Homo sapiens: one gene and its partner. The protein of the gene in region 1 purifies or fractionates together with the protein of each later gene. This does not show direct contact. Each region holds a gene or a part of one and is shown in the gene's direction. Other genes may lie near its edges. The genes, in order: ACSL3 and WDR19.

Region 1 (3,827 bases):
AGCATTCACTCAACTCAAATTTTAGGCACCTGGAATTTGAGTGGTAGTGGGATATTTAGATGCAGATATATTGTGGACAGTGGTGTGTAAAAGTCTAGTACTCGAGTTATGTTTGGACTTAGAGATTTGGAAGCTAGAAGCAGTTAGGTTTTAATTATAGCTGTGGGAGTAGGGGGTGAGGTCACCAACAGGGAATGGTGGCTTCAGAGGCTACTAAGGACTAGTCAGAGAGGAAAGAAGAAAATATCTAGTAGTATGTGGTTCCTGGAAGCCAAGGGAAAGGAGATCTTGGTGAGTCATCAGCAGGATCAGGGGCTGCATGCAGAGGTCAGATGACACAAGGATTGTAATTTCCAAGAAGTGGTGGTGTTGGAGAAGGGTGCTGTGCATTGAAGGAGTGAAGGGCTGATTTGGAAGTAAAGACTTCCAAGTGTAAACATTATTTAAGAAATGTATCTTGACTGACAGGAGAGGAAGGGTATTCTATTGGGAGTACATTTAAATAATTTTTTCACACTCATTTAGAAGTTCACATGTAGAGTAGTTCTGGGAGTGGTTCAGACATATCAGCAATGCCAACCATGACCTATTTCTCTTTGTTCTTCTGCTGTGCCACCTCTATAGCTTCTCAGCTGTTGTCCTTAGGCTGGTACTCTTCTGATTTCAAATGGTTCACATCGTGTTTTAATGCAGGACTCTGAGTGTAACCAAGTTAGTCACCATTCTGAAGCAGTGAATAGTTTTTAGCAAACACCTAGATACTCTAGTCCAAAGCTACCTTTATTTCTTAGTTGAATTACTGGGATAATCTTGTCTCCCTGATACCTTTTTTCCCCTTGTAAAGTTAGTTAGCCACACAGCAGCCAAAGTGATCTTTTTTTTCACAGATAATAACATACTCCTGTTCAAAACAACATTGCTTTACATCCAGAACGTAATCCAGAGTTCTTCCCGTGGCCTTTGAGGTCCTATGTGTGGTCCCTGATAGCCACTTGACTATTGTTTCTTGCCACTCTTCCTCTTGCTCACTCTGTTCCAGCCACACTCCTTGCTGGTCTTTAGATATGCTGAGCACATTCCTACCTTTGGGTCTTTGCATTTGCTTATTTCCTTCTAATTAGAACACTCTTCTCCCAGTTCCAGGGTTTCCATGGCTCCCTTCCTCACTTTATTCAGGCCTTTGCTAAACGAAACTCTACAGAGACGGTCTCCAGGCTTTTCCATCCAAATAGCATCTATTGTCATCTTCTCACCTTGTCTTGCTTCAGTTTTCTTCATAGGTTAATCTGTTTGTATATCTCAATAGAATATATCTCCCATACGTGCAGGGACTTGATCTGTTTTGTTGATCTCAGTATAACTAATATTTGTTGAATTGAGTTAAATTAACTCAATTTGATTGAGTTATTTATTTGATGATAATGAAAAGAAATTGTTGATACAGCTGAATCTCATGAAAGTGTATGTGTGTGTTTTTTCTCTTCAATGCAGAAAACCAACCTCATAGCAAACCATTGCCCTCAGATATTGCAGTAATCATGTACACAAGTGGATCCACAGGACTTCCAAAGGGAGTCATGATCTCACATAGTAACATTATTGCTGGTATAACTGGGATGGCAGAAAGGATTCCAGAACTAGGGTATGTCATAGTAAAGTAACATTGAGTAGTTAAGTATTTATGTCTGTTATAATGTTAGCATTTGTGTCATTTTATTAATATATGGCTAAATTAGTCCCTCAGAGTCTGTTTGTAGTAGGCATTTCCTTAAAAAATAAAAAAGGACATTAAAATTAATGGCAAAATAGTTATAGTTGTGAGGTTGAAAATATATCATATAGATATATTTTAAAAAGTACAGAACTTAAATTTGTATAGTTGTAAATCCTTTGTTTTAATCAGCTTGTATTTGCTGCTGTAGTTTTTTTTATATCTAAATACAATTCAGGTGAACAGGTAACTTAATTTATCCACTAAGTATTTGTTGAGCTTCAGTATTTGGTCTCTGATTTTTCTTGTTAATACAAACTCCAGTGGTAGCAGTGGAAGGTAGAGTGGAGTGGGGAAGAGACTGATGGAGGAAACCAGATGGAAGTTTGAGGGACTGTCAAGGAAACATTGCCAGAGATGCAATTGGTATTCTGATGACCGATAGGGTACAGTGGTTGGATATTTTTGATGCTTTTATGCACAGAAATTACAAACATACACGCACACACACACTCACGTAATTGCTATGGTACTGAACTTGGGGATGGAGGAATGTCTCTTACGTATGCATACATTTCAGAAAAAATTAAGTGCAACAATTTTCTTACAGGTTTGCCTCAGTTACCTTCTATATTTTGGTTATGGGGGCAGCTCTTGAAGTATATACAAATACTTACACATTTTCTGTATATTAAGATCTAATTTATTATGTAATCCAATTCCCACAACAAGAGTCTTATCTGTAAAATTTCTGGCAGATAGTTGTGGATTCTACTTTAACTCTTCTGGTTGGCAACCCACTAGATGTAAAGACCATTTCCTCCTTGGATGATTTCTTCTGTTCTTCAAAAGAACCCTGTATTATTATTTGTTTAAGCCACTGTTTCTTGTGCCTCAGTACTTTGCTTCAGCAACGCTTATAATTCCTGAGTGCTTTTAAGTAGGACGGGAAACAGCATTCCTTCCTGCAAGTGTGCGCCTCCTTGCTTTTGGGTTGAGCTGTAATTCTTTTTCCCTCCCATCCCCAGCATCTGCCTATCCTCTGTTTTCACCTGTCTCTCTCTCTCTCTCACAAACACATACACACTTGACCAGCAAATTGATGCCCTGGGGCCCTTCCATGTGCCTTCAAGCTTGCTCCCATTATAGGGCACTTTTGGCATAGACGACACCTGACTTTTGTTTCTGACGTCTCCCTTTTCTTTTAGAGAGGAAGATGTCTACATTGGATATTTGCCTCTGGCCCATGTTCTAGAATTAAGTGCTGAGCTTGTCTGTCTTTCTCACGGATGCCGCATTGGTTACTCTTCACCACAGACTTTAGCAGATCAGGTAAGTTCAGTGTCTGTGACTTGAAATACTAAAAAATCATAGTGAATTGTAATGCATTTTTTTCAGTCAGTATGACAGTATATTGCGAGAGCGATGGTTCATTTTAAAATGAGCTTTAGCCTTTTAAGTGCTTCTTAGACTGTAAGTACATTAAAATAATTTATAATAGGCTTTTTGATCTAAGAATACCATTGAATTTTAAAAATAAGGATCACTTTATATGGATCACTTTTTCTTATTTTGTAGTCTTCAAAAATTAAAAAAGGAAGCAAAGGGGATACATCCATGTTGAAACCAACACTGATGGCAGCAGTTCCGGTAAGAAGTGACCCTTATTTAATATTGAGTATTAAAGAAGTATCACCCGCTACAAAGCATTAGTGCTAGTGAAAAATATATTGTTGACAAGGTAGTTTATGTAGGATTTATTCCTTATTGATTATAAATATTGCCTTAGGCGCTATGGGATTTCTTCAGTCTTGTTTTAGCTTGCTTTCTTATTTACTAAGCACTCAACTTAATTTCAGCTTCTGTGTGTAATTATCAACTTGTTTGCCTAAATACCTTCTTGTTAAAATAAAAATTATTTTCATGATATCTGTTGGTGAATTCATTGACACTTGAAGCCTATTGAGAGCTAGGAGGGAAAGTGTGAGATCACCTCCTTTTAAGCAAGCTGTATAGTTACCTCCTGAGTCCTCAGGGAAAGTCTGGCCTAAACACCAAACAAAGTGACAGAGAAGCTGGTGCAGCTTTGAATGACTTAAGAGGGGCTGTTCATCCT
Region 2 (3,827 bases), on another chromosome or scaffold:
ATATGGACTGATTTTTGTAAACAGCTTATTTAGTATAATATTACAGTCAGCCCACCCTATCTGTGGGTTCCTCATCCATGGATTCAGCCAACTGTAGATCAAAAATATTCAGGGGAAAAATGGATGGTTTTGTCTGTGCTAAACCTGTGCAGAAAACTTTTGTTGTCTATATTCCCCATACAGTATGACAACTATTTACATAGCATTTATATTGTATTAGGTATTATAAGTAATCTAGAGATGATTTAAAGTATAAGGGAGGGTGTACATAGTTTATACACATATTACACCATTTTATTCAGGGATTTGGCCATCTGTGGGTTTTGCTATCCGTGGGAGATCCTGGAACCAATCCCTCATGGATGTTGAGGGATGATTGTATATTTATATTTGTTGACATGCATTTTAGAGAAGCTTTTGAAATAAAGTATCCCTAGTGTAATTTACTTCAATCATGTGAGTTAATTTGTTTCTTAATACCCACTATTATCAAATACTCAGTATTATTGAAAAATTTCTAAACACAAGTACAAGTGTGTTCGTAGTTTAAATTTCTGTCATCCTGAGCAGCTTTAATTTTTTTTCCTTAACCTGAAGCTTTGTGTCTAGACTTGTGGGTTCTCCTACAAATTTGCCAGATTTTAGATCAAACCTTGGCTTTTCCAAATAACTATAGTTTTTTCAAGCCAGACCTAGGATAGGAATGGAAAAAGAAACTTTCTTTCCTGTTGTTGTTGGAGTGATGTTAGGTTGAATATGACTCAGTAAGCTAAGCCAGCTAAGGCTGCAAACAGGCTTCTACCACGGCAAATGATAATGATTCAAGTACAGACTTGGGGCAAATCTGTAAATTTTATTTTGTAGGTCAATGACGCTACCTATGAGATTCCAGATTTTTCACCAACCATTAAAGGTGTTCTTTGGGAAAACTGGCCAATGGATAAAGGTGTATTTATTGCTTATGATGATGATAAGGTGTACACTTATGTCTTTCACAAGGACACTATACAAGGTACTAAACCCCTTTTGTGTATATTCGCTGACAGATGAATTTCCCATTGCAGTAAAATTAAAACATTCTTTCTGATGTTTGTGCTGAGTATTAGCTTTCAGCATTGCGATGTCTGTTTTATAATGTAGGAGCCAAGGTTATTTTGGCTGGTAGCACCAAAGTTCCTTTTGCTCATAAACCTTTGCTGCTATATAATGGAGAGCTGACCTGCCAAACACAGAGTGGAAAAGTAAACAACATCTACCTTAGCACCCATGGCTTTCTCAGCAACTTAAAAGATACGGGGCCTGACGAACTGAGACCAATGCTGGCACAGAATTTAATGCTAAAGAGGTAGGCTTTCACACACTTCTTTTGGAACTTCTCATTTGCTTTTGTGATTTTAAAGGTCAAATCCTATAATTATTCTATCTTATTTTATTGCTTTATTCTTTATCCTTGCAAGAATTTTTTTTTTTTTTGTAAATGTAGAAGTACAAGTGCAGTTGTGCTACATGGATATAGTGCATATGGTGAAGTCTGGGCTTTTAATGTACCCATCACCAGAATAGTGAACACTGTACCCAGTGGGTAGTATTTTATCCCTCAACCCTGTCTCACCATCCCGCCTTTTGGAGTTGCCAGTATCTATTATTCCACCTGTATGTCCATGTGTACCCATTGTTTACCTCCCACTTCTAAGTGAGAACATGCAGTTTTTGACTTTGGGGCATTTCACTTAGGATAATGACCTCGAATTCCATCCATATTGCTGCAAAAGACATGATTTCATTTTTTTAATGGCTGAGTAGTATTCCATAGTGTGTATATCTATATATACACACCACTTTTTAAAATCCAGTCATCTGTTGATGGACACTTAAGTTGATTCCATGACTTTGCTATTGTGAATAGTGCTGCAGTAAACATATGAGTGCAGGTGTCTTTTTGATAAAATGTCAAATCCTATTCAATAGATGGAGATAACAGCACTTACCTTGTTCATTTCACAGGGATATTGTGAGGCTCAGATAAGATAGTCAGCTGTTTTTATTATGAGTACTTTATTACAAGAAAAGCCCTTAAGAACAAAACGGTTTCTAAGCTTCCAGAGAGCCTAGTTATTGGGAAATCCTAATAAAATAAACCTAATTATTTCAACAATATCTTGACTTCATCATAGTGAGGTTTGATTTTGCTTTGCTTATAATTTCCTTTTACTGTTTTTTTCTCTTATCTCCTAGAGCCACCGTGAATTCCTTTGACGTTCTAATTCTTCCGAGCCTCTCTTAAATGCTGCTGTTTATTGGGGTCTCATGAGTTTCCTTCTCTTCTTACTCTAATTATTCTTCCTGAGTGAATCTCCTCTGCTTAACATGGCTCAACATACCACCCATATGAAGCTGACTCTAAAATCTGTGTCTTTATCTTAAACCTGTACTTACAACTACCTTCCAGTCATGTGTCCTTGGAAGTCCATGAGCTCTTCAAACTTGCCCTTTCTAAAACTGAACTCATCAATTTCCACAGGCCCCTATTTTCCCTCACTGTAATCACACATGCACATGCCTTAACACACATATACACCAGCTCCTTTCCTCCTCCCGTGTTCCCTCATCTTTACCCAGGCCCTCACCTGGAATAATGTGTAATGTAACTAACCACTTCCTAACTGCTCTGTCTGCCAATAGCCTTGTAACGATCTCATCTGTTCTCCACACACTTTTGAAGATGTGATTTGATCCTCTTATTTCCCTGCTCAGGATCCTTCAGTGACTTTCTATTGCCTTTACAAACAAATCCATTCCTGGGGGACCTCTATGACCTACTAGGCACTTCATGATTTAACACCAGCTCAACTGTCTCCACTCAAGTCCCTCTCTGTTCCACTGGCTGCTGAAATTGCATATATTTCATGATTCTTCCTGGAATGCCCTTTCCCTGCTCTGAATGTAGTAACCCCTCTTTCTTTACCCATCAGCGATAAGTGGAGCCATCTCCTGCTCCAGGAAGCCTTCCCCGACTTCCCCACCACCACAGGCAGTCCTGCTTGGGGTCTTTCTGATGTGTTGCCTCAGAGCCAGGATGCAGTATACACAGTGGTGAAGAGCATGACACCACTTACCTCTGTGTGCCTTGGGCTAGTCTTTTGACGTCTCTAAGCCTCATTTTCCTAATCTATAAAGGAGACATAATAATAATACTTAGTGGGTAGGGTTATTAGGGTAAGAGAATTTATGCAAAAGACTTAGCACAAAGAGTTACCTATTGTAAGTACTCAGTTACCTCTGTCAAACTATGCTATAGTCATTTGTTTCCTTATCTGTCTCTTCCACCTTCCCCAATTGTGACTGCCTTAAGGACAGCAACTGTGGTTGATTTTTGTATCATGTTTCCAAGCATGTAACGAGTTCAGTAAATGTGTGTTGGATGAAAAAATGGATAGGTGAATAGATAAATGGATGAATGAATAGATAGATGGATGTAATATATTCACTCATGTAGAGGTTCCACAAAAAGTTTAATTGGCATTTATGTTCATGTTTTAAACCAGAGGTCGGAAAACCTTTTGTGTTAAGGTCCAAATGGCAAATATTTCAAGCTTTACGGGCCATAGGGTCTCTATCGCAGCTACTCAGTCTGGCTGTTGTAGCAGGAAAGTGGCCACAGACAATCCATTAAAGAGTGGGCTGGGCCGGGGACGGTGGCTCACACCTGTAATCCCAGCACTCTGGGAGGCCGAGGCGGGCGGATCATGAGGTCAGCAGATCAAGACCATCCTGGCTAACACGATGAAACCCTGTCTCTACTAAAAATACAAAAAATTAGCCGGGTG

The links.
Region 2: the proteins of ACSL3 (region 1) and WDR19 purify together in Homo sapiens (affinity purification with mass spectrometry; one large-scale study listed by BioGRID and IntAct). This does not show direct contact.

Annotation. Positions count from the first base shown.
Region 1 is NC_000002.12:222,919,789-222,923,615, forward strand, and holds part of ACSL3 (fatty acid CoA ligase Acsl3), read left to right. Parts: intron 1-1,491; coding exon 1,492-1,642; intron 1,643-2,919; coding exon 2,920-3,043; intron 3,044-3,289; coding exon 3,290-3,361; intron 3,362-3,827. UniProt on the Homo sapiens protein: Acyl-CoA synthetases (ACSL) activates long-chain fatty acids for both synthesis of cellular lipids, and degradation via beta-oxidation.
Region 2 is NC_000004.12:39,227,346-39,231,172, forward strand, and holds part of WDR19 (WD repeat-containing protein 19), read left to right. Parts: intron 1-864; coding exon 865-1,012; intron 1,013-1,140; coding exon 1,141-1,345; intron 1,346-3,827. UniProt on the Homo sapiens protein: As component of the IFT complex A (IFT-A), a complex required for retrograde ciliary transport and entry into cilia of G protein-coupled receptors (GPCRs), it is involved in cilia function and/or assembly.